Linked DNA regions of Homo sapiens. The protein of the gene in region 1 interacts with the protein of each later gene in a biochemical or structural test. Each region holds a gene or a part of one and is shown in the gene's direction. Other genes may lie near its edges.

Region 1 (7,786 bases):
AGCGGACATTAATGCTCACTCCAGCCTCATCACCTCTCCAGAGAGCTGACACTGCTTGGGAAGCTAAATTGTTCTTTTTGAAGGGAGAATTACATATGAGAGACTGAAAATCGAAACAAACTAAAAAGGATGCAAGCTCACTATGAATTAGTTAAGTCTATTGCGTTATCTTATGGCAAGTTTATAACTTTCTCCCTGAATTTTGGGTTCCCTTGGTTGGAGAAGGGAAATGTAGATGTGTTCCCTAGGACTACCATAACAAAGTACTGCAAACTTGATGGCTTAAATTAAAGCAACAGAAATTCATTCTCTCACAGTTCTGGAGGGCAGAAGTCAGAAATCAAGATGCCAGCAGGGCTGCACTCCCTCTTCTGAAGGCTCTAGGGGGAGTCTTTCATTGATTTACCAGTTCTAGTGGCTCCAGGTGTTCCTTGGCTTATAGCTGCATCACTTTAATCATTTTACATGGCCTTCTCCCCTGTGTGAGCTTGTTGACACTCCTTTGTCGTCTCTCTTACAAGGATACATGTAATTGTATTTTGGGCTCACCTGGATAATGAAAAATAAACTCGTTGCCTCAAGATCCTTAATTAACCACCATTTGTGCCACATAAGGTCACATTTACAGAATCCAGGATTTGAATATGGGCATGTCTTTGGTGCCAATGTGTAGCCCACTACACTACGTAATTCTTTTCTCTGTCTTATCACAGAACAGGCTCTCTTACACATAAAGTTGGTTGCTTTCTAAATTCCATGAGGTTTCAAGTTTGTTTCCATTGTTCCCCTTTCTTTCTTTTTTTTTTTTTTGAGATGGAGTTTCGCTCTTGTTGCCCAGGCTGAGGAGCTCAACGGTATAATCTCAGCTCGCCGCAACTTTCACCTCCCAGGTTCAAACGATTCTCCTGCCTCAGCATCCCAAGTAGCTGGGATTACAGGCACCTGCCACCATGCCCAGCTAATTTTTGTATTTTTAGTAGAGATAGGGTTTCACCATGTTGGCCAGGCTGGTCTTGAACTCCTGACCTCGTCATCTGCCCACTTCGGCCTCCCAAAGTGCTGGGATTACAGGCGTGAGCCACTGCGCCCAGCCTGTTCTTCCACTTTCTTAATGACCTAAATAGAAACATGATTCACGCTGACTTCTTCCTTTGTATTTAACCTTGCACTATGAAAACAAACTACTGTCTCTGATGCCTTAGTAACTTAATAGTGCTTCTGATCTTTTGAAAATCACAGGTTTGTGCTTATAGGAATATATCCTCTAGACTCAAGCTTATGTCTCTAAAAGTCTAACTAAAGGCCTTGTGGCTGGTACATTACTGTAATCAGCAAGAAACTGGCCCTGATTCTCTTAAACTCACTTTGTTCAACTGAGAACAAACTTGGAAGTCTCCTACAAAACTGGAGTTGATTCTCATCTCTTGATTACTTCTGCAGGCCTTTGAAAGTTCCGGAGAAGTTCTCTGTGTGCCATATACATTAAACACGCTTCCATGTTTTCCTTTAAATCATCAAGAGCAGCACATAGGATAATGTGTTTATTCCTTTCTCTGCTCCCTAGGATTATCTTCTTTTTAAAGTCATCGACCCTTTCCCTATCTACTCTAAATGAATGATTTCTTGCTCCATCCTGACAAATCCGGTTAAAATGACATTGCATCTCTTTATATCATCTGTCCAAATTGTACAAAGAAAGAGTGTCTAATGGGCACTCTCCAGCAAATTTACTGCCTATGGAGTGCTTAGAGATCCCAGGCTGTCCTAAAAATAAAAGAAAGTCTTGAATAGGTTTCTCCTTTCTCTGAGGTTTACAGATTCAGAAGCAGGGAGTAGGGAGAAAGCATTTCCCTCATTATCTTTCTAATACTCTTGAAACATATTCTGCTCCTTGAAAACCTAATATTCAAAAGTTAGCTCTCGGAGTGTAGGATCGATTTTTTTTCACTGTTTATTTTATTTTAAAGTTTTTAATTTTTTTTATTTTTATTTTTATTTTTTATTTTTTGGAGACAGAGTCTCACTCTGTCACCCAGGCTGGAGTGCAGTGGCACGATCTCAGTTCACTGCAACCTGCGCCTCCCGGGTTCAAGCAATTCCCTGCCTTAGCCTCCCAAGTAGCTGGGATTACAGGTGCCTGTCACCACGCCAGGCTAATTTTTGTGTTTTTAGTAGAGACGGGGTTTCACCATCTTGGCCAGGCTGGTCTCGAACTCCTGACCTCGTGATCCACCCGCCTCAGCCCACCAAAGTGCTGGGATTAGGCATGAGCCTTTTTTTTTTTTTTCTGAGGCAGTCTTGCTCTGTCACCCAGGCTGGAGTGCAGTGGTGTGATCCCAGCTCACTGCAGCCACAACATCCCCAGCTCAAGCAATCCTTCCACTTTAGCTTCCTGAGTAGCTGAGACTATAGGCACATGCCACCATGTCCAGCTAATTTTTGTATTTTTTTTTTTAGAGATGGGGTCTCCCTGTGTCACTCAGACTGCTTTCAGTCTGTTCTGGACTCGAGATCTTCCTGCCTCAGCCTCCCAAAGTGCTAGGGTTATAGGGGTGAGCCACTCCATCCAGCCCACTTTATTCATTTTAATGAGATGAACATTAGTCAATTAATTGGGCTTTTTGGCTCACTGCAACCTCCACCTTCCGGGTTCAAATGATTTTCCTGCCTCAGCCTCCCAAGTAGCTGGGACTACTGGCGCGTGCCACCATGCCTGGCTAATTTTTGTATTTTTAGTAGAGACAGGGTTTCACCATATTGGCTAGGCTGGTCTCCAACTCCCGACCTCGTGATCTGCCCACTTTGGCCTCCCAAAGTGCTGGGATTACAGGCGTGAGGTCACTGCGCCTGGCCAATTGGGCTTTTATTGGAGAAGAATGAATATCTATAGTGACTGCTTGTAGAATGAAATGTTGTTTCAAGCTTTTTGCCCCCTAAAGATGAGAATGGTAATATAACATTTGTGTACTGTGAGTTCTAATTGGGATAAATAAAATACTAGAAATAGAATCCCAGACCCAGGAAGAACCTTGTCTTCAGAGGAGCAACCTTGGTCCCAGCCCCTTCTCCACAGCTGCATGAAGAAGCTGCACAGAAAACCACTCACCCTCACCCCTAGAAAGTACTCTTCCCAGCCCCTAGTAACCACTATTCTACTCTCCACTTCTATAGGATCAAATTTTTTAGCTTCCACATGTGAGTGAGAACATGCAGTATTTATCTTTCTATGCCTGGCTTAGTTCACTTAACATAATGTCTCCCAAGCTCATCCATGTTGCCACAAATGACAAATTTTGTTCTTTTTAAATCAGTAAATAGTATTCAATTGTGAATATATACCACATTTTTCATCCATCTTTCTGTTGATGAACATTTCGGGTGATCCATATTTTGGCTATTGTGAATAGTGCTACAGTAAACATGAGAGTGCAGAGATCTCAACAAGATTCAGTAACCTTACTACTGAGTATATATCCAAAGTATTTTATTCATTTTGATGCTATTATAAATGGAATAGTTTCCTTAGTTTCCATTTTTGGATTGTTTATTGTTAGTGTATATAAATGCAACTGATTTTTGTGTATTGATTTCCTGTCCTGCAACTTTGCTCAATTTGCTTGCTTATTAGTTCTATTGGGGTTTTGTGTGTGTGTGTGTGCATGGTATCTTCAGGTTTTTCTACATATAAGATTTTATCATTTGCAAACAGACAAAATTTTACTTATTTATTTCCAATTTGGATCCCTTTTACTTATTTTTCTTGCTTAATGTTACTGCAGCTTTCTATGCAGGAAACGAGGATTTGAACAGTGATGGAGAGATGAGTAATGGTTCGATTTGGAACATATTTTATGGGCAGAACAAATGGAACTTGTTGGCTCAGAAGTGGGTGGTGGAAGAAAGAGGGAAGTTAAAAGTGACTTCTAGGTTTATGGATGGATGAACTGGCTAAATTATTGTGGTGCCATTTGCTTAGACAGGGTAGATGGGGGGATGCAGGACTAAGAGAGGAAGAGAAAAGCTCCACCTGGGCCACATTAAATTTGGCCATGATTGTGGATCAGATAGGTAAAAGCAAGAGAAGGAGGGAAGAAGTCAGAACACAGACCTCTGGGGAAAGCTCACACGTAGAAAAGGGGTGGAAGAAGAGGCATCAGAAAGAGAGGCAAAGAAGAGCAATCTGAGGGGTAGAAAAAGAACCAGGAAAGTCAGAGAAAAAAGGGAAAAGTTTCAGGAAAGTGGCAATGGTCAACTATGCAAACAAGAGGGGAAGGAAGGTGAGGACTGAGAAAGGATTTTTTATGTAAGCAACAAGGAGGTTTTTGGTGACCTCTGACAGAACATTTTCAGCAGACTGGATAAGGTCTCTGCCTGAGTGCAAGTGAGCTGAAAATGCAAGTGAGTGAGGGAAGTGCTTTAAAAAAGTCTAAAGTGCTATGTGTGTAAGGCAATGTTGCTATTTCTGTTGCCATGGAAACAGAAACCATTTAGGAGAACTAAAAGCCACTTAAAATTCCTGACTCTAACCCATCATATCCGCTTGATCTCTTGAGAAAGATAATGACAAAAAACCAGTCATTAGAGGGGCAGGGCAATTTTAGGTTTCTTCTTTTTAGACATAGCCCCTAACTGGAAATTTTCACCCTTCTTGAGAAGGGAGCTTGCACTAACATCTACAATGGCTTCTAAAAAGCACAGATGACCTGCTACACTTCCTGACTTGCTTGCTATTGGTTGGCACTGTTCATAAATATAATTTGCTCTTTCACTTTTCTTTGAAATGAGCAACCTGAATTACTCGGAGGAGAAAGGCAGGAGAGATAGAGGCAGCAGAAGCCAGGGCAGCTGAAAGACAGAGACCTTCAGGTGGGCATTTTAATCTTTGTTTTGTTAATTCAGTGTTGAGCATCATGACTTGATGATCACATAATAGTCAGAGGAGTAATTTTTTAAAAGTAAATTTGTTTTGTTCTACTATAAATGTTATTTTCCTATCATGTACATGGTAGTTTAAAAAATACTGTGGAAGTATAAAAATGTTGAAAGAAGCCAAATTCTCCACCAAAATAGCCTCTATTGATATTTTGGGGATCGTCCCTTTGTGTGTGTGTGTGTGTGTGTGTGTGTGTGTGTGTGTGTGTGTGTGTGTGTGTGAGTGTGTGTGTGTGTGTGTGTATGCACATATAACTTTAGTTTTCATAGTTGCGTCCCTACACTATGGACAAGTTTGTATTCATTTCCTCCATATCAGTCTATGGTTTTTCCATGTTGCTGTGAATTCTTTGTAATCATAAATTAAAGCTGCTGCATATTATTGCATTGAGGAACTTTACTATACTTCCTCCATTTTTGGCTGTTATCCTCTTTTTCATAGTTTGGGTCCTTCTATTATATAAGATATATTTTTTCCATTCAGTGTCTTGTTTTAGGGGTAGAAGAAGTTAAATCTGAGCACATATATTTCAATGGTTTTGCTCAGAGGCACAATGAGAATGAAAGAGTATGTGAGATCATGAGCATATAATCTGTTCCTTACCCCACTGGGACCCTAATCAGTGTTTCTCAACCCTGGCTGCACATCTGGCCAGAATCACCCGACTCTGAGGAGATTAGAAAATTACCCCTAGAATAACTGAAGCTTAACTTTTGGAGATCAGTGAGTCATCTGCAGTATTTTATCTTGTTTTCCAGAAACTTCTCAGGTGGTTCTAATGGGTGGTCAGCATAAAAACAGATGACCTAGGTCATTCAAAATATTTTTCTGTCTCTGAAATATACCTGAGAGTAATATGTATTAGGAGAAAGGGAGGTATAATTTAAGGCAAGCCAACCAAATCTCCCTTTCAACACTACATAAATAATGCAAATTATAAAATAATTTGTGGGAAACATAAGACTTCTAGAAATTTCTATCATCTACTCAGCCACATAAACTCTTGAGATAAGAATCTACTTGTGTTTCGATTTACTAATGTTTTAAAGAGATGGATTTGTTTCCAGTGCTTCGGTGGTTAAAAGTTAGAGAAGTTGAGGCTCAAGTGTGTTCTAAATGTATCTGAATCACGCCCATATCTGCTAGAATCTACCAAGGCAGCCAGGCTTCCTTTTAAAACTCTTCAAGATTAAACACAAGGTGGGCATTTAATAGCTGGCCAGTTCACTAACACACTGTGGGCACAGCGAAGATCGATGGGATTGGATTTGGAGGCAGAAGGTGGCTCACTCTGGCTTTCAGGAGCCACATAGACATGGCATTTACCTTCTCTGGACCTCATATCCTCAGGAGGAAAGTGGATAGAGTTTATGCCAGGGCTGCGTTCTGGTTTCTCCCATCAGGGACTGAAAACAGAGCCACAGCGCCTAAACCACACTGAAGCATTTGCTGTTGCACTCAGCCTGCTACAGGCTAGGAATCATCCCAATGAGACCAACAGCATGTTAATCTAATTTCTTCTTGTTTTGACTCAGTGGAGAACACCTGTTTAGTACCTTCTTTAATGAATGTAAACATTCACATAGTACTTTACTATTTACAAAACATGTTTACAGGCATCAGTTCATTTGATCCACATACTAGCCTTAAGAACTGGAGGATGTAATTCTTATTTTAAAGATGGTAAAGATGAGACCAAGAGAACATAGGATCTTTCCCAGGTGGAACCAGAACTGGTCCAATCTGGTTGAGCCCAGGGCACATGGTCCTTTCTTACAACTTAAATAATAGCTATTGTGGGAAATTGGTTAAACAAATTTCATAATGTTTATATAATTGGCTATTCTGTATCCAGTTAAATGATGACATTGATGTTGTTAGTTGGCAAAGAAAGGTGATCATGACACGAAATAAGAAAAAAGCAAGATACAAACAGCATTATAAGTGTGCTCATTTTTGTTCAAAAATATTTGTATATATTTCAAGAAAGATAAAAAAACCATATATGCAAAATTTTAGCTATGTCTGGTTGGTGGTAAAGTTCATTATTTAAGTTTATTTCAGCTTGTATTACATTGTAATTTTTTTTTACCATGAATGTGTACTACTTGTGTAATAAAAATAAATAGAATTGTTCATGTGTTTCTGGTTGGCTCTTCTCCAGATGAAATGGCCCCATCTTCTTTCACTTGACCATAAAGAAGGCTCCTGTTTAATTATCTGAGTTTTGTACATTATTGTCACAAATCTTATTGTGATTGTTAGCTAGTACTGACTGAACTCTTCACATGTGTTGGGCACCAAGTTAATCACTTAACATCCATTTTTTTTTCATCAATACTCACTCCAGTGCTCCTTTGGCAGATGAGAGTTTGAAGCTCAGACGGCTGCAGTAATAAAAGAGACTAAAAGGCAGAGTTGAAACTTAAACCCAGGTCCCTTTTAACTCAAAAGCACATGCTTTCATTCATTATATCACTCTGCCTCCTATCCACCTGGGATCACATGAGCAGCCTCCATTTTGGAGGAAAGATGATATATTTTTTCAGTGTACTCATTGCTGTGTACATGAGTACATGATGGTTACCTTGGGCATCGTTAGCATTTCCTGTGTACTCCAGAATCAAAGATCCTTTCTGCTTTTCTATAGTTTGCTCTGTGCACCAGATATCTGAGGCACTCTAGTTCCCCAAGGGTAAGCCTTTAAGATAAAAGCCTCACAAGGGATTGTGCAATTACCCAATGAACTCTGGCTAATGCGGCAGCCAAATTGGATAATACAAAGAAAGGCAAGCATTTTGCTGTGGGTGCTCAGCGTTGCTAGAGAGCTTTTTGAAATCCATGTCAGAAACC
Region 2 (7,517 bases), on another chromosome or scaffold:
GCACAGAGCCCCACACTGCTCACTGCCTCATTATTAAATATAAACAGACCATCCACGATTACCAGACTTTCAAGGACCCAATATAAACAAACATTAGAGGAAGAAGAAAAGCTAGATACATAGGGACAGAGGTATACTGGATTATAATTATGGTAGAATCACACAGACTGTAAGAAAATCTCATCTCTAGAGCTGCATCCTCTGAAATGACCTTTTGTTTCTGTGTGTTTGTGTTGTGACCAGAAAGATGTCACATTTTCTGTGAGACCTGGCTGTTCACCAGTGGAAACTCATGTTTTCCTTATATTCCTAGTTATCCTTTAATAAGCTCCGACTGAGGTAATCTCAGTGTGTTCCTTGAAACTTAAAAGTACCTGTCTAGCTCACTGTGAATGGCTTAATATGTGTATTTCATCAGTTTGAATGCTTTTAGTTACAAACAACAGAAAACTCAATTCAAACTAGTTTAAGAACTAAAAAAAATTTATTGGCTCATACAAGTGGAAAGACAAGAGGTGGAGTGGGCTTCAGGTAAGACATAATCCACTGACTCAGTGGTGTTTTCAATAGCTCAATTTTTTCCCCTCTGTTCTTTCTGCCATCATGAAGGGGGAGTATTACCTAAAAGATACTATGCAACTTGAACAAATTCTTTTCACTATTGTTATTGTTTTTCTTGATTTTCTTTTTGGATAACTCACTTATGCCCTCAGAGTATGCATAACAGGGAAGATATTTTGTAAGATAGTTCAAAATGTCATTCTAGCTGGCATAAACTTGAGGCACAGATTCTGGAACAGTTTGGATGTGTTTCTTCCTAAAATTAACCTGGCCCCAATGCTTTCTCCTGGAATTTCCTTATAGAGTTAGAATTTTGTGGGTACAAATGCAAATGAATTCAAGGTCAGAAGGTCATGACCTCCCAATGCCCTTTCTTTCATGCTTAGAGAGATGAGGCCTAATCAGACACACTGGAGATTTCAGAGCCTTTATCTCTCTATAAACAGTTTGTTATATGAAGAGAGACAGATTACTCTGTATGTTCTCAAAAGAGAAATAATTTTTACATTTTTCTCATTCCTGGGATTCTCTCTTAGTCATTCTCTCCCCCTAATGGCTTTCTCCTAGACACATATATATCCATTATCCTAATGTTCTTCTCTTTCTTCTTTATCTTCTTTTTTCAACCTTGACTTCTTTTCAATGGAGAGAAAAAATTAAGGATTATTTAAAATGCTTTTTAACATTGAACAAACTGAAAAAAAATTTATCTGAACTCTTCTTTTAATTGAGACATCTGAGGCAAATTGAAACCATAAAGTCAGTCAGCCAGTAGACAACATAAAAAATCTACAAACTATAATAAACTAAAACTGCACAGTTGTTATATATTAGATATCCCTTAGGTAGAGGGACTGGCAAGCATGCCATCTAGTTTGCATTTAAATGCTGCATTATTAATAAGAGTCACTGCTGGCTAAAGGTGATAAAAATAGCCCATCACCCCACTATTAGGATTACCCCAAATCAGTCCTTGGGAAAGGATTTGGTTCATAGAGTTCTAACCCTGCAGTTCTGTAGTAACATCTCCCAGCATGGGGGTCTCACCTACGTCTTGGCTATCTGCTGTTAAAAAGCAGAATGAAGACTGTGTGCTCAGCAGGCAACTAAAAGAATCCTCTGTTATTTTGGTGGATCAAAAGTTTAATTTCCAGGATCTGTCTTTTCAGCAGCCGTTAAAGGTTTTGAGTAGATAACCCGGGCCTTTCACTAGTTTTAGAGTTGGAGAGGAGCCACAAATGTAAAATAATATCATATACATAGTTTATATTTGTACTGTTCAATTATGATGAACAATAAATAATAAACCAACAATAATAATTTAAACCAATCTCAGAAGTTTCCAGGACTTTTTCCCTTATAAAAGTCCTCTGAATATGACTCAAATTTGAGAAAAACAAATTATTGTGGAGAATGCCTCACTGAGGATATAGGTGGAATGACCCCAGAGCCTGTATTAACATGAAATAGAAAGCATTATTAATCTATTTACGTATGGGGTTTCAAGCCATCCCATAGAGTAGAGCACCTCTACTCTATCTGCTTTACACTTTGTCTTTCTCTGCAAGATTTTATTTCAACTTTAATGTTTTTAACTTTTATTTTAGGTATTTTTTTTTAAACTAGTGCACTATATCCCCGGTGGATTTCTAGAAAATCTTAGGTTTTCTGGATTAGAACAAGTTAAAGAGAATAGAGCAATAGCTATACGGATTAACTTCAAAAGGAGAAGCTTCAGGGTGGAATTATCCCCAAACTCTGGATAATTTTATGCAAGGACTAATCTAAACCAGATGCCTTTTTATCCTCTGATATACTGCTGTTTAAAGAGGGCATGTGGGCTTTGCTTCGCTAAAGGAGACTAGAACAATAGCACCTTTTAAACCAAGGTAAAATTATTTGTTTTAATCTCATTTATCCACAATAAACCAGGGAATTAAATTTCTAAAACTTTCCTCTAATTCAGTTTTATGGGCTCTTTCCCTATGGTTCAATATAAAAAATGCCATTTAAAATTTTAGGACTCAAAGAATTCCTTCAGTAGCTAGTTATGAAATTCTTTTCCTCCTACACTACCCCAGCAGCTAACATTTCATGCACGTACTTCCTTTGTATTTGAGAATGACCAGATTTGAAAACTGACAAGTAGAAGTGCTATTCAAACAGGAGGATCCCTTTGGAATTTCTAAGCAATAAGAAAATCCTTTCCAAATGGGATGCCTTGAGGTGACTCTATGACAAGAACACAAAAGTTATATGGAGAAATTATTCATTCTTGCAGTCGTATATTCATCCTATTTCATATGAGTGCCAACCAAGTGTGAAGTTTTTACTAGGCTCTGAGGATAAAATGGTGACTTAGCCCCTGTTCTCATGGAGTTTATGGTTGAAGAGGGAAGAGACATTGCATAATTACAAAATCAAATGCATATTTACAAAGTAGGAAAAATATTATGAAGCAAAAGCATAGGGTACCATAAGAATGCATCACAATGGGTTTATCGTAGTTTGTGGGAATCATGTAGCATCTATGGCAGTTCCATTCACTGGGACACTGAACAAGATGACCAGGCTTGAGCAGAAGTATCACGGCTGCATTTTTTTTTGCAATCTAGGTTTGAGACAAGCAAACAGGGAAGCCAAATAAACACTTGAATATATGGATAAATCTGAAGGTATAAATGTAAGATTCTGTAGGTACGAGATCATAAGCTAGAAGTGAAAATGTATTTAGAGGTAAGAGTTAAAAGGAAAAGAGGGCCCGTAACTGATTTTTAAGGAATTCCAGCATCTAAAGATTGGGGGAGAGGAGGCAAAGAAGACTGAAGAGTGGCCTGGGGACAGGGGCAGATCTACCTGGAAATTGATGTAGCTTAACGTTCCGGGTCCTTCTCTTGCCTGGGAGCAACCCTAGCAATGTGTTTACATGGGCATTTATTTTTTGAATTTTTCTAAAGAAAGATTTTTTTTTTTTTTTTGGTTAAAGCAGAGCTCCCAATTGTACAAGCTTCAGAGCCCATACATCCGCCCTTGACTAAGCGGAAGAAGCAAAACCAAGAGTGTGATTGCATGGAATTACAAGAGGGGTGGGGTGGGGAGGACTCTAGGAAGAGAGAGGTCAACAGCTGTGAATGTGTTTGAAAGTCCAAGGAATATGAGAAAAAAGTATTTTTATTCAGAATATTAAAAGAAATTCTTTTAAATGTTCTAAATTGGACTTCTGAGTATCCTTTGGTCCTATAATCTAATATCAGAGGGATATTTTGAAAAAGAGTTTCTTATGCAGAAAAAAATTCGTGGGACTTCCAAATTGAGGATAACAGAAAGAAAATCTTAAGTGGCACAAAATAGAAATGAATATCTGTTCTTCCTGGGGCCATGCAACTCTAATAACTTTTCCATGTTTACTGTTTTTGCTTTTTAATTGGATCATCAGACTAAGAATGCACCCTGATGTGCGAAAAGTTACTTAGAAAGTGAGAGGACTGCCCCCACCCTTCTGATTAAAGCGCTTCTCATAAGCATCCTATGCCATTCAGTAAGCTACCCATGCAGAAAGCATCCACAGGGCAGTGCACATAAGGAAAATCTGAGGAGCTAGAAACAGGCTATCAGTTTCCGCAGGTTGACAAAATCGGCAGATAAAAATACAAGACTGCCATTAAATTTGAATTTCCGATAAACAACGAAGAACTTTTTAGCATAAGTACGTCCCAAATATTGCATGGGATATACTTGTACTAAAATTATTCCTTTTTTTTTTTATTTGAAATTCCCATTTAACAGAGCAGCCTATATTTTATCTGACCACCTCACAAGTCCACTACCCACACCCCAGGTCGAGCGGCCCAGGAGCGAGTTTAAAACCCCGCACAGGCCTGCTCGGCCGCGTCCCCTGATTGGCCAAGGCGCGCCCGCCGCCCCGCCGGTCGCAGGCGTCACGGCAGCCCCAGCAGCCTGGGCCCCGCCACCGCCTCCGCGGCAGCCCCGGTCGGCGCAAGTGCGGCGCGCGCTGGGGGAGGGGGCGCGGCGGAGCGCTAGGCTGGCGTCGGGCCACCGCGGGATTAAGTTTCTCAGTCACGCGTGAGTGTCTGTGCGTTTTGATCCGAAGCTCCTCGCCGGGTCGTTACTTCAGAAGAGAAGACAGTGAGCGTGGGCGAGGCGAGGCATCCAGAGGCCCCGGCGACCCCTGCTCCCCAGTCCTCCGCCCCCTCGCGTCGCGGCCCTGGGCGGGCGCCGCGAGCCGGGTAAGCGGCGCTTGAGCCCCGGCCCAGAGGCCGAGGCGCGCCCCCGCGCCCTGCGCGCGCGCCGGCGGGGAAGGTGCGCGGGCGCCCTGGGCTCGGCGCTTGGGGGTGGGGGTGGGGGCGGGGATGGGGGTGGGGGTGGGGGTGGGGGTAGGGGTGGCGGCGGGCCGTGGGGCGGTGGGGCGGTGCGCTTGCCCCACCCCGCGCGGCCCGGCGCTTCGCGGAAGCCGCTGCTGTGGCTTTTTTAAAAGGATGGGGTCTAGAAGTTTCCTTTGCTACTCGCAAGTCTCCACTCCCCCCAGCCCCGCGGTGGATAATCCTAGACCTTTCAGCACCCCCGCCACCCCTTTCTTTTGCTCTCGCTGACTAAGAGGTTTAAAAGTTTTTCCTTTTCCTTGACCCAGAGGGGCACAGTCTTGGTGTCGGGGGGCTGGGGGTGGGGTGTTAGCCTGGGGGCCCGGAGCGCAGACCAGGCCTCCAGGGCGCGGGAGCCTGTTGCTCTCCCCTGCAGGGGCCGCTCCCGGACGCCCCATCCGCCGTTACGTGGTCCCGGGATGTGCGGGTTGCGGTAGAGAGTGGGCAGCAATGCTCCTGGTCCTGCGTTCTCGCCTTAGCCGCGGGGACCCCGAGGCGAGCCGCTAATTGGTACCGGTGCCCCGTCCCTCACCCCTGGCACCGGCGCCCTTTTAACCGCCGCTCCCGTTGGTGGGAGCACGTTGGTCTTGTCTCTCCCTTAGTCTCCTCACCCCCCGCGCTGATGGGCGTCTTTGTCTGCGATTTGGCAGCCCCAGGATGCCGGATGTTACCAGGGAAGCGATGTTTGGGAGACGCTTTGTGTCTTGCGGAGTTGCGCGTTTGTTGGGTGGTGATGGTGTACATTTTTGTTTGCGTTCTTTGCAGAGGCACAAAGGCTGGGCTATTCTTGCCTGCAGTCACATGGAAATCAAGCGGAGACTGCGGGGGAGGAGAAGTGGCCAGGCGCCGGCGGGAGGTAGAGGCCGCTCCGTAGTCACTGGGGGCGAGTGGGGGCCCCTGGAGACCTCTACTGCGCGGTGCGGCTTTTGAGGTGCTCCGCTTGGGAAGACCCCGGCAATGGGCACTGACTGCCTTTTTGCAGTAGGGGCTGCGGTTGGAGGCTAGTGTTTCCTAGGTATCATCAGATAGATAAGAGGACCATGACTTCACCAGCGTAGAAGGAAAACTTCTCCATGTTCCTTGATGTCATAGAGAAGGAATCTGATAAGTGATCAGACTGCCTCGTCCTGCCTTGTAGACAGTTTGATGTAAACATCCCCTTCGTGTTTCCCTAGAAATTCCTGGTTTAGGTTACCCTTTATAGAATAAATAACACCTTATCTGAAAACTAACGAGGAGGAGGTGATGGTTTCGGGCTTGGGAGTTTTACATGTTGAATTTGGGTATGAGTGATTACAATGAACATCTTGTAATGTTGGAACTATCTAAATTTGTATAATGTATGCCTTAGCACCTGATGGAATTTTGGCAAACAATAGTGTTTTAAAAACCTAGCAAAACTTGGCCAGGCGCAATGGCTCACGCTTGTAATCCCAGCACTTTGGGAGACCGAGGTGGGTGGATCACTTAAGGTCAGGAGTTCAAGACCAGGCTGGCCAACATGGTGAAACCCTGTCTCTACTAAAAATACAAACATTAGCGGAGCGTGATGGCTCGCACCTGTAGTCTCAGATACTAGGGAGGCTGGGGCAGGAGAATCGCTTGAACCCGGGAGGCAGCGGTTGCATTGAGCCGAGATCGCGCCACTGCACTCCGGCCTGGGTGACAGAGCGAGACTCTGACTCAATAAATAAGTAAATAAATAAAAAATAAAAATAAAAGCCTAGCAAAACGTTCCTTGACTTGATCTTCTAATACAATACTAAGCTTTGGATGGAGGCACCTGTACCCTTGTGTGCAATGTAGGCAAAACTAGTTTTGGGTACCCCTTGACTCTCCGTTCTTCTTCCCTATCTCATTTGCCAAAACAAACAAACTAATGAAGATTATTCTCAACATATTACTAATAGATTATGGTGTACCTTATTTCTTACATATGTTCCTTTTTTTTTCCTTTGATCCTTTCTGTGTTTATTCTTTTCACTTACCTTCTCTAGTTCTGGTTTTCTTTGTCCCTTTACCACACTCCTTTTTATTGACTAGGCCTGAAGGTTGTGGCTTGGAAAGGGAGGGATCTTTAGTCAATTTTTAGTGTGCTTCAAAGTCCTATCACCTAGACATTGCTCTGCTTGACCCTTAAAGACATCTTTCCTTTTCAGATGCATTTAAATGTACCTAACTGTGAGGAATAGAGGCTGGTCTCAGAGTTTAGTATATTTCTACAAGTTGAAGCTATTCAGAGAGACTCTTGGAAATCCTTGATATGTAACTTTACATGGATTTAGGTCTAGTTGGCCACTTTTAGTTTTTAACTGCTAGGGTGGAGAGATTTTGCTTGACAAATGATCAAGTGAATCCATTGTCTAGAATTGAGATTAAGGGATTTAAAAGCTGGAGAGGAACAATGAATTGCCTGGAAGGTAACTATCCTCACTTAGAGGTAGATTATTTTCTCCAGATTACATCCCAGATCTGACATAGTCTTGTCTCTCTCAGGTTGAGTTGCAGGTTGGCTACATTTTGTATATTTGGAAACGTACAAAGTACTCTGAATTTCATGAAATATTTTGAGGCAAA
Region 3 (7,023 bases), on another chromosome or scaffold:
TAATCTTCTACAAATTCATCCTAACTCCCCTAATTCATTTTATTTTATTTATTTATTATTTATTTTTTAGACAGAGTCTCGCTCTGTCACCCAGGCTGGAGTGCAGTGGCGCAATCTCGGCTCACTGCAACCTCTGCCTCCCAGGTTGAAGCAATTCTCCTGCCTCAGCCTCCCGAGTAGCTGAAATTACAGGTGCCCGCTACCATGCCCGGCCAATTTTTGTATTTTTAGCAGAGACGGGGTTTTGCCATGTTGGCCAGGCTGGTCTCGAACTCCTGACCTCAAGTGATCTGCCTGCCTCAGCCTCCCAAATTGTTAGGATTACAGACGTGAGCCACCGCGCCCGGCCTCCTAAATTCATTTTAACATCTTCCTTCCTTCTCTCACCAAACTAATTTGTGCTTAATTCAAGTTCTGTTCTTTTCCTTACTATATTTGTTCTAATCTTTGAAACCCATAATGACATCCAGTGTTTCTCATTGTCACTGAGAATGAGGTTGCTTCATGATGCTCTTCTTAGTAGGAGTGGCTGACAGAATGTCTTCCTTGCTTTAGGAAATGCAGGACTCAGGCAGTGAGAATGCATTCAGTTTTGATTCTGTCACACATAGCCCGGAATGCACCTCTCGGACAGCACCTCCTTGTCTGCTGCCTCTGCCATTCTCCTTACTGCTTTGAGTGTGTAAATTGAGGGGAAAAAAGGGCTTTTTGTTAGAGTTTGGGTATTTTCATTTTCAAATCATCTGACGCTGATTTTTAAGAACTCTGTTTCAAGAGCTGTAAGCAGTAGGTGAGTATTTCACTCTTCATGGTTTTACTACATCCTATCTCATTTGGGCTTGCATATGGTAAGATAGTGTGTTTTACTTGCAGCTTCCAACTGAGCCAAAGGCCACAGTATTGCAGGTAGAAGTCAAAGTCTTGGAACTAGATTTTGGGCTGTGTGTGCAAAGGTGTGAAAACACCTTATTAACAGAGAATATGAAGAAGACAGCCTAGATTGCAGGTAGAAAAATACAAACTTCTCACTGAAATCACCCATTTGTGGTGACTCCATATGAAGACAGGTTCCACTGGATGTGAAAAGTAGAAACTTTTTTTTTGGCTTTTTTTTTTTGAGACAGAGTCTTGCTCTGTCGCTTAGGCTGGGGTGCAGTGTCGTAATCTTGGCTCACTGTAACCTCCACCTCTCAAGTTCAAGTGATTCTCCTGCCTCAGCCTCCCGAGTAGCTGGGACTGCAGGCATGCAACATCACACCCAGCTAATTTTTGTAGTTTTAGTAGAGATGGGGTTTCACCATATTGGCCAGGCTGCTCTTGAACTCCTGACCTCAGGTGATCCACCCGCCTCAGCCTCCCAAAGTGCTGGGATTACAGGCGTGAGCCTCTGCGCCCGACCTCCTAAGGCTCTTTTGATGTGTCACTCCTCTCAGATTTCCAGGGGCCACTAGATCTTGTCTATTCAAGGGCTTCCAAAATTTGCTTCAGACCTTTATTTCCAATACCATTTCCTAGGACTTCTAGCATCAGCCAAGCTGGTGTCCTTTTCCATAAGCCTGGATTGTATAGCTCCCTCCCCACCTTCTCCCACCTTCCCTTTTATTTCTTTACTCTGCATCATTTATAGCATGTCACAACAGCATGTCTTGTCAGAAGACCTGGGTTTTGTCCCAGGTTGGTTAGATGTATGACCTAGGTCAAACTATTTTTTCCTCCCTGAACCTCTGTTTCCCCATATGTAAGAGAAAGAGACCGCACTAGGTGACTTCTATGGTCCCATTGGTCTTTTCAACCCTACCATTCTGTGCTTTTTCTTTGGCTGCCCGAGGACATAGGGCCCTTTCTTTAGTGCTTCAGGAGTGTTTACCAGTCATTGTTTGGGATTGTAGTTAACATTTTTTGTCCTCTCTTTAGCTACTTTTTGAAGATATGTTTGTGAACTGAGAAAGCGCCCTGCTAGAGCTAGTTTCCTAGGATGTGGGTGAGGGAGAGGGCTATTGAGCGAGTTCTACTTTGGACTTTTATCTTGCATCCAGAAGCCAAGAGGAGATGGGGTTTGTAAAATATTTTCTCTTATGCTTCTTATTGGGAGAATGAGATGTTTCTTTGAAAGCGGGTGCATATTTACCACTTTGGCTCAGAAAGAAGGATGTGGTCTCCTGGAGACATCCTTCTAGTATACTGTGAGGCTGCTATGTCTGTGCTGTTTGGGTTGGCCTTCCATCTTTTCAAGGTGCCAGTGTCTTGGCATTTAGGGTTGGATGATCACTTCATCTTTCACTGTGCCTTTCAGGGCCCTGTTTGATTATGATCGGACTCGGGACAGCTGCCTGCCAAGCCAGGGGCTCAGCTTCTCTTATGGTGACATTCTGCATGTCATTAATGCCTCTGATGATGAGTGGTGGCAGGCAAGGCTGGTGACCCCACACGGAGAAAGTGAGCAGATCGGTGTGATCCCCAGTAAGAAGAGGTGAGTCGTCATGATCATGAGCAAGGCCTTTCCTGCCCTCTTGCTGGTATTTCTTTCTTGTTTTCCTATTAGAAGTTGCTTGAGAGCAACGTTTGTGCCTTGATTCCTTTTTGGTAGAGTCGGTACTCAACATGGTTTTTACTCAGTGAGCCAAAAAAATGGCTGCTGTGCCTGCTGCAACCCACTGCTGAGACCATTTACTGGCAGTAACAGGACTTCTTTCTGATTCCAAAACAGGGTGGAAAAGAAAGAAAGAGCTCGATTGAAAACTGTGAAGTTCCATGCCAGGACGGGGATGATTGAGTCTAACAGGGTAAGTGGGGATCCCCAAGGAAATCAGCCAGTAGGTAAAGAGGGTTGAGAAGCCTGGAGTTTAGTCTGATGTGTAGGAGAACTGGGGAACACAAAAGAAAATCTCTTTTTCAGGGGGCTGGCTCTGTCCTATCAGAACATTGACTGCTTTTCAGAAAGCAGAGAGGGAGCTCTTAAAGTTCACAGCCAGTCTGTGCTCCTTTCCCCTGGGTACCGGCTCTTGAAGATGTGTTAGAGTTGGACTGTCTGGAAGGCTGACTTGCTTGGGGAAAATGAAACCACTCGTGGGTGTCTCCCTGGCTATAGATCCTGTCAGAGCATCCGGCCAAGAAGCCCAGCTCCAGAGCTCCCACCTCCCTTCAGACCACCTGAGGCAGGCGGGTTCTCCATTCACCCCTTTTTTTCTATGAGCTTCACAGGCCAAAGAACTTCTGGAGCAGTAGAGGGAAGAGAGACGTGGAGTAGATGTGTATATCAGTGGTACCTTAGGGCATGTGTCCAGGAGGCTACAGTGACCTTTGTTCTTTAGGAAGTACCAGTGAGTGTTATGAGTGTCTGGATTATGTAGAAACTTCTAACATCCCTACAACATTTTCTTGTAAACATAATTTTCCTCTTACATCAACTTTCATTTAATCTCATAGACTCCATTTGTGAGAGATGGTCTTTTATTTAGCTCACCGTTGTCTCCATTTTAGTTTTTCTTGCATGCTTTAAAATCCATTGTTCTGTTTTTTTTTTTCTTCTGTCCTTCCCCTCCATCTTCATGTTCTTTCACAGTCGATCAAAACGAAACGTAAAAAGAGTTTCCGCCTCTCTCGAAAGTTTCCATTTTACAAGAGCAAAGAAAACATGGCCCAGGAGAGCAGCATACAGGAACGTAAGTAGCAGCAGAGTCCAGAGAGCAGGCCATCTGCAGCCCCATCCTCTCATCCTCAGTTGCCCTTCCCTCGAGAGAAGCCTGGGCAGGGCCACGTGTGGCCTCGTGCCTGCCTGTGTGCGTGTGCACCTGCTTATCTACAGAGTCAGGGCAGAAACTGGTCTGCCTAAGGAGATGTTGGGTTTTATTTGTCCTGCTCCTCAGTTAGAATGAATGTTGGAGGCACTGAGGTGGGACTGGTCCCAGGGTCAGCCTCCAGGAAGTGCCTGGCACTAGCAGTGGAAGTGCCAGACAGAGCTCTGCTGTGGTGGTGAGGAACGGTTTTTTAGCTAGACTGTCAGGGTCAGGAAAATGGTTTTTCAAGAGAACAAGGTCTAGGGACTCAGTGTTGCTCTCCTGGTTTCTTCCTCTTGTGTTTTCTTTCCCTTAACTTCACTCATGTATGTCAAGAGAAGAGCCTTTTCTTCCCAGGATCCCTGGAGTTGGGGCTACTTCTGGAATCCCATGCACGTGCATAAGCATACAGGATATCCACACAACTCTCAGCAGACTCGCTGTCATCCTAGAGTGCCTACAGAGCCAGTTTTCCCAGGAGAATCCTTCCTGCTTAAATGAGTTGACATGGAAGGAGTGTTGCTCCACATTGTTCAAATAAAGATCTATTGAGAAACACAAAGTTGGTTCGGTAGGAAGAGCAGTCACACTGAGCTAAATTCAACGGAAGAAGAAATTTAATCCTGATAAATCTTCTTGCTCTACCGTGTGCCTCAGCAATTAACTGCTCCAACCTTAACCTTAAACACCAGGTCTGGCTTGAAAAATGTCTTCTCACTTGTCTCATCATGAACAGTAAACATCTCTCATTTACCAGTGACTCCTCTGTCTTACATGGAGGGATCTTGGGGTCTTGGTCTATTGGGGCTGGCAGGAGACTGACTGGTTCTGATAGGAAATGTCCTTCTGTCAGGCCAGCTTGGTCCACAGTCATGGTATGTGTAAGTCATTGCTATCTGGGGTGGTACCTGGTGGACAGAAGGGTGCCCTCATCTAGATGGCAGCCACGGCTCATCATCCTGGAGTAGTTCAATGAGAAGCCATAGACGGGGTGGCTCTGCTCATGAGCAGTTAGGAGACAGTCTGAGTCAGAGGCCTGAGGTGATGTCACCATAGTTTCATCAGATGAGTCCCAGAGTCCCTCCATGCCAAGCCCAGCCTGGGGAGGTGTTCATTGCTCAGTGGTCCCGCCTGGTGGGCGAGGGGGTATCTACTGGATGACAGAGTTGAAGGTGCCTAGTGCTTCTCCAGAAGCTGAGCTCATCCCCCAAGATCTGTCCAGCTCAGGGCAGCTTTGGAGGCCACACTCTACACCATGCGAAACTTTTCCTGAAGGGTTTGAACAGAGTGAATCAGTATTGGGCAAAGGCTTCTTGAGGTGATGGCAATTCTATCTGCCTACCTGGCACACGCGGACATTTGCTCTTTCACGCACTGCAGAGGGAAATGGTGATTTCAGGGGCAAACAGAGACCTGGGCTCCACAACCAAAATTTAGTCAAAGCAGGTGCTCTAAGCCTTGGAGTGTCACCTGTCCTGTCCCATTGGCCTACAGCTGTAGACACCTCAGAAAGCTAGTCTACTCCAAGGCCCTCTGGCAATGAATTGGGCAGCATGAAGTCTTGATGTCTTATCTGCCCTGGGATGTTCTTTCTGTGGCAAAGTTCCTGGCCTCACTATAGTGCTAGGTCTTCATGGTGTTTCATAATTCTGTCACTAGTGCTCACCTACCTCTGTATTCTTCCTCCCCCCTTGTCTTTTTCTCTATTTTTTCTCTTCTCCCCAAATCTCTCCCTCTCTTCCATTCCCTCCCATCCCTTCCCCTTCCCCCCTCTTCTCCCCGTCGTCCTCTCTCCGCCCTTGCTGTCTGTGAAATCAGGACTTCCCGGGGTTAAGTGACGATTATTATGGAGCAAAGAACCTGAGTAAGTCCAACTTACACACCGTTCACTGTACTTGTGGCATGAATGGAGATAGTGGGGGTGGGGCTATTGGGGACATGGGTGAGGGTGAAGGGTGAGGGGAGGGCAGTGTTTGTGAGCACTCTGACATCACAGCAGGAAGAAGTGCATGTGGCTCCATATGTTACATGTTTGCTATGGATCCCTAGTACCCAAATAAGTCCATATCATTCATGCCTTTGTTTACCTTTTGCTACTCAAAGTGGGAGGGCGTGAGCATGGCATCCCACCTTAGAAGTGAAGTAAGCTTGAAATGTTTCTCCAAGGTAACCACTCAGCTAATCTCTAGCCTATTGTCGAAGGGAGGGGTGCCTGCTGGTTGGATTCTTCTCCCAGTGATACCACGCTAAAGAATTGGGTGTAGGAATTGCAGCTGTTAACAGTCCTCTAACTAGGGGCAAGGGTACTGTGACCCCTTTTTCCCAACCTGCATCTGAGATGTCCCAGCAGATCCCGGGCCTCAGCAAACAGCCACTGTTTGGCTTCCCACAGAGCACCTGTAAGGGGTTGAGCTGGTCTGCTAGGGGCCTCAGCATCATTTATGGACCATATATAGTTAGTGCTTTATCTCAGGAAAACTCCAACCTCATTTTCCTTTCTGGAAAAGAATCCTGGAGTGGAAAATGAAAAAGACCTAGATGATGAGGCCTTAGTGGCCATCCTGCTGCGTGCAAGGGTGCACAGACACCAAATGGGTTCTATCAGCATATACTCTCCTTCAATAAATAATACAGACCAAAGGCAAAGGAGTTGCCCATGGGGATTGTTCAGGAACTAGCCATGTGTGGCAACTCAGCCAGTCCTTTCTGGGTGGGGGGGCCACAGCATATCATGGTCTGGAACAGTGTGGTCTTGGCTGAAATGAGCAGCATCTCTCTCCATAGTTTGGTGTGTCCATGTCTCATCTTCATTCGCGTGTCATCTTGGATGGGCGGGCTTTGTTTGTGCCTCCTACGAGCGCTGCTCCTCCGCCTGAGCTTTCTTTTCCCTCACCACTAAGAGATGGGCAGATCCCAGCTGTGTGAGACAGGAGGGCTGCCTTGTCCTCAAGGTGTTTTTGTTGGTTTTGTTGTCTGTGTTTTGACATATGTGTCTGGTGGTGGATGGAGATGCTTCCCCTCTCACCACTGAAGCCAGGCTCTCCTGCTTTGGAGTGGTGGCAGGAAGGCTGGGGAGCCCACCGAATGGTCAGAGCAGCGCTCCCTGGTGTCTGCTTAACCCATCCAGCGTTTGGCCTCTTAGTTGTGGAGTGCCACATGGTTCTGTACTTCAGGGGCTCTGTTGGGCGGGGGACACCCATGAGCAGACTGGTCCCTGGACTTCTCTTTGCTCCTGTCACTGTCTTTT

Evidence for each region. The genes of interacting proteins can lie anywhere in the genome.
Region 2: the proteins of CYSLTR2 (region 1) and MPDZ interact in a test that uses a peptide from one of them, tested with the Homo sapiens proteins (2 studies listed by IntAct, with this or other methods).
Region 3: the proteins of CYSLTR2 (region 1) and DLG3 interact in a test that uses a peptide from one of them, tested with the Homo sapiens proteins (2 studies listed by IntAct, with this or other methods).

What each region holds. Positions count from the first base shown.
Region 1 is NC_000013.11:48,649,152-48,656,937, forward strand, and holds the start of CYSLTR2 (cysteinyl leukotriene receptor 2), read left to right. Parts: upstream 1-4,777; 5' UTR 4,778-4,866; intron 4,867-7,786. UniProt on the Homo sapiens protein: Receptor for cysteinyl leukotrienes. The response is mediated via a G-protein that activates a phosphatidylinositol-calcium second messenger system.
Region 2 is NC_000009.12:13,276,691-13,284,207, reverse strand, and holds the start of MPDZ (multiple PDZ domain protein), read left to right. Parts: upstream 1-4,515; 5' UTR 4,516-4,808; exon of another isoform or gene 4,809-5,178; intron 5,179-5,450; exon of another isoform or gene 5,451-5,796; intron 5,797-7,436; exon of another isoform or gene 7,437-7,517. UniProt on the Homo sapiens protein: Member of the NMDAR signaling complex that may play a role in control of AMPAR potentiation and synaptic plasticity in excitatory synapses. Promotes clustering of HT2RC at the cell surface.
Region 3 is NC_000023.11:70,489,814-70,496,836, forward strand, and holds part of DLG3 (disks large homolog 3), read left to right. Parts: intron 1-2,293; coding exon 2,294-2,470; intron 2,471-2,707; coding exon 2,708-2,783; intron 2,784-3,562; coding exon of another isoform or gene 3,563-3,662; intron 3,663-5,594; coding exon 5,595-5,640; intron 5,641-7,023. UniProt on the Homo sapiens protein: Required for learning most likely through its role in synaptic plasticity following NMDA receptor signaling.